Homo sapiens: one gene and its partner. The protein of the gene in region 1 purifies or fractionates together with the protein of each later gene. This does not show direct contact. Each region holds a gene or a part of one and is shown on either strand. Other genes may lie near its edges. The genes, in order: CRTC3 and KIAA1549.

Evidence for each region.
Region 2: the proteins of CRTC3 (region 1) and KIAA1549 purify together in Homo sapiens (affinity purification with mass spectrometry; one large-scale study listed by BioGRID and IntAct). This does not show direct contact.

The regions. Positions count from the first base shown.
Region 1 is NC_000015.10:90,637,634-90,641,449, forward strand, and holds part of CRTC3 (CREB-regulated transcription coactivator 3), read left to right. Parts: intron 1-812; coding exon 813-1,013; intron 1,014-1,101; coding exon 1,102-1,182; intron 1,183-3,408; exon of another isoform or gene 3,409-3,463; coding exon 3,464-3,566; exon of another isoform or gene 3,567-3,624; intron 3,625-3,816. UniProt on the Homo sapiens protein: Transcriptional coactivator for CREB1 which activates transcription through both consensus and variant cAMP response element (CRE) sites.
Region 2 is NC_000007.14:138,974,762-138,978,577, reverse strand, and holds part of KIAA1549 (UPF0606 protein KIAA1549), read left to right. Parts: intron 1-3,816. UniProt on the Homo sapiens protein: May play a role in photoreceptor function.

The DNA of each region.
Region 1 (3,816 bases):
GTTTTATTATCTCGAAAGTAGAACCTTCCAGTCTCCTGGCAGGTGGCAGGATGGTGGGGGCCAGTGCGCAGAAGCACACTCAAGGCAAGGGCTCTGCAGGTCCAACTGCCCCTTACACAAACTGTGACCAGAATCTCCTGGTTTTAGCTTCACCGCCTGCTCCCTGCTGTCCCCAGTCCCAGAGCCCTGTGGGGACTGAGTGCTGTCAGTGAGATTGCCTCCTGGTTTTTCCTCACTGCCAGCCTAGCATCGGGTTTTCTCAGCTCTGCTAAGCCAGCTGCCACCGGGCCATCTGCTGCTCATTTTCCAGCTTTTGTTGCCATTTTCTTCTCTCCCGTTATCTTTGTCCTCGTGTTGTTTGTTATCATTTAGTGTTCTGTGCTGTTGTTTAGTGTTTTTTATTAATGCTTATTGCTTGTTAATGTTGTAGTGTCTTGTTTTAACAGGATTTGGGGATGACAGAGCTAAGGGCCTTTTTCAATTTTCCACTTTTAACCAGAAGACACGGCTATAAAACAAAACAAAACATGATTTTCACGGAGAAAACTGAAAGGAAATTGGTTAAATTGGCTGTTTTCTTGTTTAGTTCTTTTAAGACAATAGAACTTGTCATTGAATGGAACATGCTTTGTGGGGAAGTAAAATTTGAGATATACTTTGAAGGATGAGAAACGGGCTTCTCACAGCATTGCACAGAACACCGCGGTGAGGAAAATCTCAGGCTTCCTCTCACTCTGACATTTCCTAATCCTAAAGGACTTAACGCCAGAAACGCAGAAGCTCATTAGTGGCTTTGTGTGTTTGTTTTGCAGATGGTGTCCTCAGACCGAAGCCAACTTTCCTTTCTGCCCACAGAAGCTCAAGCCCAGGTGTCGCCGCCACCCCCTTACCCTGCACCCCAGGAGCTCACCCAGCCCCTCCTGCAGCAGCCCCGCGCCCCTGAGGCCCCTGCCCAGCAGCCCCAGGCAGCCTCCTCACTGCCACAGTCAGACTTTCAGCTTCTCCCGGCCCAGGTGAGTTCTGGCAGGAGCGTTGGTGCAGAGGGAATGCTTGTTTTGCTCTGAGTTCCAAGCTAAATGATCATCTCCTTATTCCCTGAAGGGCTCATCTTTGACCAACTTCTTCCCAGATGTGGGTTTTGACCAGCAGTCCATGAGGCCAGGCCCTGCCTTTCCTCAACAGGTGGGTGATCGCCCCTGCCTTCTCCTCCCTTGGTGCATAAACTGTACCATTTAGGTTGTTCATTCTGTAGAATTCAGAACTGAGCAGACCAGACATGCCACTTTCCTGGTTCTGGTTGTGTTCTGTGGCTAGAAGAGCCTTTCATCTTCTTTGGCCCTAAAATGCTTTCTCTGGCTGCCTTATTTAGTATCAGGCTTCAGCAGAGGAACTATTGGAACAATCGGCAGGAGACTTTTGATGACACTCTCGTTGTAGAACTGTAAAATCATGAACACTGGAAGGGACACAGCACCTGCCTCCTCAGCGCCCTCATGTTGAAACTGAGGCATAGGGAGAGTGGCGCCTGCTCCCACCGCAGAGTCAGAAGGTGGCGCCGCATTTGGCCTGCACCCAGGCTGGTGCACCCAGCACAGCGTGGGGCCTCCTGGGGAGAGCTCAGTCCTGGGGAGTGAGGGGAGTGCGTTCCGTAAGGTATTTTCAACTCGGCCACTTTCTTTTACAGTTTAGTTTTTTCCTAACATTGACTATTTTTAATATTCTAGATTTTATAGTATTCAATAGTATTCAATAAGTATGGACTGGGCCCTCCGATGGATTAAGGAGTGGAAGAAGGGTTGAACAGGTTCCAGAACTTTTTTTTTTTTTTTTTTTTGAGACAGAATCTTAATCTGTCGCCTAGGCTGGAGTGCAGTGGCGTGATCTCGGCTTACTGCAACCTCCACCTCCTGGGTTCAAGTGATTCTCATGTCTCAGACTCCTGAGTAATTGGGGTTACAGGCATGTACCCCTACACCTGGCTAAATTTTATATTTTTAGTAGAGATGGGGTTTCACTTTGTTGACCAGGCTAATCTTGAACTCCGGACCTCAAGTGATCCACCCGCCTTGGCCTCCCAAAGTGCTGGGATTACAGGTGCGAGCCACTGTGCCCAGCCAAGAACTTAATAAAATAGCTGGGCATAGTGGCTCACGCCTGTAATCCCAGCAGTTTGGGAGGCCGAGGCGGGCGGATCATGAGGTCAGGAGATCGAGACCATCCTGGCTAACACGGTGAAACCTTGTCTCTACTAAAAAATACAAAAAAATTAGCTGGGCGTGGTGGCAGGCACCTGTAGTCCCAGCTACTCGGGAGGCTGAGGCAGGAGAATGGCGTGAAGCCGGGAGGCGGAGCTTGCAGTGAGCTGAGATCGCACCACTGCACTTCAGTCTGGACAACAAAGCAAGACTCTGTCTCAAAATAAGTAAATAAAATAATAATAATAAAATAAATTAAGATAGCTGTTTCCTAAGCAGGCCACAGATGAAGCTTTGTGGCAAGAACCAATCCTCCTTGCCTCCCTGTTTCCCAAAGAGCCATTTTAGTCTAGGTGGGAATCACCGTCTCCCTGAAAAATGATAGACACTTCTTTTGAGACTTTTTTTAAAATGGCTTAGAAAATTAATTTCAGGAAAGGAACCTAAAATTGGCACTGGTTATAACCAGTCCTCATAGAGGCTTTCTCATAGGGAGGAGCTTGCCTGAGTTTCCTCCTTCTGAGTGTGAAAAGGAAAGCCTTCCCCTTTCTCAGTTTTCTAGAAACCAGGGAAGAGGCCAGGTGCAGTGGCTCACACCCATAATCCCAGCACTTTGGGAGGCCAAGGCCAGTGGCTTACTTGAACTCAGGAGTTTGAGACCAGCCTGGGTAAAATACAGCAAGACCCTGTCTCTAAAAAAAATACAAAAATTAGCCAGGCATGGTGGCATGTGGTCCCAGCTATTTGGGAGGCTAAGGTGGACGGATTGCTTGAGCCTGGGAGCTGGAGGTTTCAGTGAGCCGAGATGGCGCCATTGCACTCCAGCCTGGGCAACAGAGACCCTATCTTTAAAAAAAAAAAGAAGAAAGAAACCAAGGAAGAAGAGTCCATACTTCCTTGGTTATAGACAGAGCCTTTGAAGGGTTCCCACAGAAGGCAGTTTGCAAAGGCCTTGGTGAGGCTGAGGACAGATGTCTGAGGGGCCACAGAAACCATGAGCATTGGTGTCTCTTGGGATGGTGTAGTGGGCTGGGGAAAAGTCACCACGCTGTGGACCTCAGGGACCCCTCCTCCACCCCAGCGTCTGCCTGCCTGACAAGAATATTGTGCATGCATTACCATAAGAGCAAAGCACTCTGGGATCCTGGAAAGAAGGGAATATGGATTAGTTTGCAAGTCAGGTTTTGCTCTGGGAGCACATTGCAATACTCACTTCCTCCTTGGAAACAGAGGTGTGGCCTTCCTCACATGACCTTCGATGCTTCCAGGTGCCTCTGGTGCAACAAGGTTCCCGAGAACTGCAGGACTCTTTTCATTTGAGACCAAGCCCGTATTCCAACTGCGGGAGTCTCCCGAACACCATCCTGCCAGGTGAGCGAGCTATCCCTCAGCTTCTTTACTGCTTTTATGTTGTTGTGTGTTCAGGAACCTTCATAAGAGAGTTTAAACAACATAATATTATATAAAGCAAAAAGTTAACGTTCCCTGGGTCGACTTGACTTTTTGAGATGCAGGTGTCCAGCCTCAGAGACCGTGACACAGGGCGGTGGGCCTGGTAGTCAAAGCCTTTTCTGAAAGATTTCATCTGGCCCAGTGCGGTGGCTCACGCCTGTAATCCCAG
Region 2 (3,816 bases), on another chromosome or scaffold:
CCTTATTACAGTCTTTGGTTAAATCTCTATGTTAAATCGATTTCTTGTCTATTTGTATTTCATTCAGCATTTTGAGTGTGTTTTTTTAAAAAAAAAATTTACAAGTTTGGTCTTAACCATTGACTGTTGTGGAAACAACTTGTAATGCTTTGGACTTACTTTTGAATGCATTGCTCTTAAGTGATTAGCCATCCACAGTATAAAAACAAAGAATCATGCCCAGTTTCTTCACCTTATTCAGAGATAAGTTTTTAAAAAGTAATAGTTATTATGAAATAGATTGCTTTGTAGGGAATTTGGAAATTACTGAAAGGTACAGAAACCAGTCACCCATAATCTCACAGCCTGTAGGTAACACTAAGTAATTTTATCGTTTTTTTGTTGTTAACATTAAAAAAAGAATTATATGCACAATTGTATTTACTACCATTTCCACTCTACATTTAACTTAAGCATTTTTCCATTCATTAAGTCTTATTTGAAAACTATTTTCTATCCTAATGATTTATTCTTTTATTTCCATTTTTTGGGTTGCTGTAAGTAATGCTGATGAATAGCTACATAGAGAAGGCTCTGCTGGCCATGCGCGCTGGCTCACGCCTGTAATCCCAGCACTTTGGGAAGCCGAGGTGGGCGGATCACCTGAGGTCAGGAGTTTGAGACCATCCTGGCCAACATGGTGAAACCCCGTCTCTACTAAAAATACAGAGATTAGCTGGGTGTGGTGGCATGTGCCTGTAATCCCAGCTACTTGGGAGGCTGAGGCAGGAGAATTGCTCGAACCAGGGAGGCAGAGGTTGCAGTGAGCCGAGATGGCGCCATTGTACTCCAGCCTGGACGACAGAGCAAGACTCCGTCTCAAAAAAAAAAGGCTTTGTGCATGTTTCTTTCCGTGTGTGTGTGTGTGTGTGTGTGTGTGTGTTTTCTTGAGTATACATTTGTGGAAGGGGTATTAGAGTGTGATTAAAATGTAAGGCCCACCAGGCTGGATTTCTGCATCTTTTGTTCAAAATGCTGGGCCCCTAGTAGGTACTCAGTATGTGATTTTTGAATGAAGCAATTTTTGAAAGTTATAATGCTGACATAAGCCCTTGAAGCTTACGCAGGGGCCTTCCATTATCACTTGCATTGAGTATTCACTTCATCACTGGCATTGAATGTTACTTTAAAAGCCCTTGTTAAATAAATTTGTAATACATTGTTTTAACCTGCACGGTTTTATTGCTTTAGAATTGAATATTTTTTATTTTGTATTTGTATTCTGTGAATTTTCTCTGTATTTTTATTTATTTACCTGTTGTGGCATAGATATGTATTTAAATCTTTATGTATTAGAAGGATAGCAACCATTTTTCCTTCTATATGTTGCGTTTTCCCCTTCCAAAGGAATTTCTTTTAAATTTTACATAATTTTGAAATGTAGAAGTTTTTGGTTGTTTTGATTAGCAAGATCTGCCATTTGTTCTTTTAATAATTTTTTTATTGCATTTATGCTTATGGTGTGTGAAATTTTTTTCTTAATGTGCTGTTTTATTATTGGCCATTTCTAGGTGAATATTTATGCTTTGTGAGTCGTTTAGGATATTATAAACAAATACTTAAATGTTTCAAAAGTGTGGCCCCTAGGCCTCCTGCATCAACATCATTTGGGGATGTGGGGGTGCTTGTTAAGAATTTAGATGTCTACGACTCACCCTTAGCCTCTAAATTAGACTCTTTGGTGGCAGTGCCTGGGAATCTTCATTTTAACAAGTTGACAGCTCCGTTTTAGCCCCTGAGCATTGGAACCACTGATCCGGATATGGTAAACCCAGTAACTGAAAATTAACAGTATTTTGAAGATATAGTAGTCCCTCCTTATCTGCAAGGGATGTGGTCCAAGACCCCCAGTGGATGCCTGAAACTTTGGGTAGTACTGAAGTCTGTATATACCATGGTTTTTTCCTATATGTACATACCTGCAATAAAGTTTAATTAAAAAATGAGGCACAGTAAGAGATTAACAATAATAACAAAACAGAACAGTTCTAACAGTCTACTGTAATAAAACGTGAATATGCTGTATCTCAAAATACCTCAGAATATCTCAAAATATCTTCAAACTGCAGTTGTCCTCCGGTATCCGAAACCTTGGAGGAGGGGGACTACTGTATACCATTGGTATCTTGCAGTTGTCTTTTCACTGTTAGAACAGCTAATTTAAAATCGTTATGTTGAGGCCGGGCGCGGTGACTCACGCCTGTAATCCCAACACTTTGGGATCACCTGAGGTCAGGAGTTGGAGACCAGCCTGGCCAACATGGTGAAACCCGGTCTCTACTAAAAATACAGAAATTAGCCGGGTGTGGTGGCAGGTGCCTGTAATCCCAGCTACTTGGGAGGGTGAGGCAGGAGAATTGCTTGAACCCGGGAGGCAGAGGTTGCAATGAAATGAGATCGCGCCACTGCACTCCAGCCTGGGTGACAGAGCAAGACTCCATCTCAAAATAAAATAAGATAAAATAAGATAAGGTAAAATAAAATAAGCATTTTTTGTTACATGTTTTTGCTTGGTTTTGTTTGGGTTGGGAGTGAAAGGGTGCAGAGGACTGCATTTTCAATGCTCACTCCTGCCCGTTTGGGAACAGCTGCTGCAGTGCTTGTCAGGAAGTGCCTCACTTAATTCTGAAAACAGAACCCAGCCAGGGAGTTGTTACAAGTCACTAGGGACGTGGGAGCCACAGGTTTTCTATCAGTGCCCTGAATGATAGAGGCAGCTAATTACCGTCATTATAATTACACTAGGTTGATTTTCCCAGATAGGAAGACACTGTTCTAACTGATCTAATTTGTTTTCAAGTTGTGACCACCCACCTTTCATCTGGAGCTCACAATGATGTGATTTCTTTTTCTTGTTGTTAGGCAGCAGGATTTGTTAAAAGGTGAGTTAAAAAACCTGGGTGTGTGCAAATGCAAATCTGCCTGTAACTTTGTGACTATGGACAAGTTACCTTGTCCTGGGTTTCCTCCTCGGTGTAAGAAAGGGTTAATGAGATTAGCGCTAATCTCATTAACCCTCTAGCTCCTTGTAGCTCATTTCTCCCTGTAGCTCCTACATATCAAGTCAACATCTTGGATGTCTTGGAATGCACTTATAAGCAGCATCTGTCCTTTTTCTGTTAGGTTGTTTTGTCATTTCTCCTTGCCTGGTAGATGTTCTAGGCCCATGACCTGCTGAAGGCAGCTCACTCTCACCATTGCAGATGGCTCTTCTTTTTAAAAACTCCCTTTATTCTTCCCTCTTGCATCCACACACTCAAGACCCATACTTTGCTTTCTCTTATTCTTTCTCTTTGTCTCTTTCTTTTTTCCATCTCCTTTGTTAGCTTCAGGCAATTACTTCTCATTAGTGAAATTCTAATCTTGTGGTCCCCACACTCTGAGCATCATCACTGCCTCTTAGCTCGCATCATCACTGCCTCCACTGCCTCGTAGCTTGTTAGAAAATGCAGAATCTCAGGGCCCACCCCCGACCTTCTGAATCAGAATCTGCATTTGACAAGATCCCCCTGGTGATTTTGCATGCACAATTGAGGTTTGGGAAGCACTGGGCTAAGAGGTAAAGTGCCTTCTGTTCTAGCCTTCTGGGAATAGGTATTGTTGGAACATTGAAGGCTAAGTCAGCCTGGACTAACTCTGGAGCTATGTAAATCTCCAGAGACCTTGAGAGACACCTGCTTTTGGGACTGAGTCTGTGTAAATAGTGTGCAAGAACCATATTTTATTTGACCAGGCAACTAGATTAGAATTGTCCCCTAGACCTGCTGTTTTCATTCA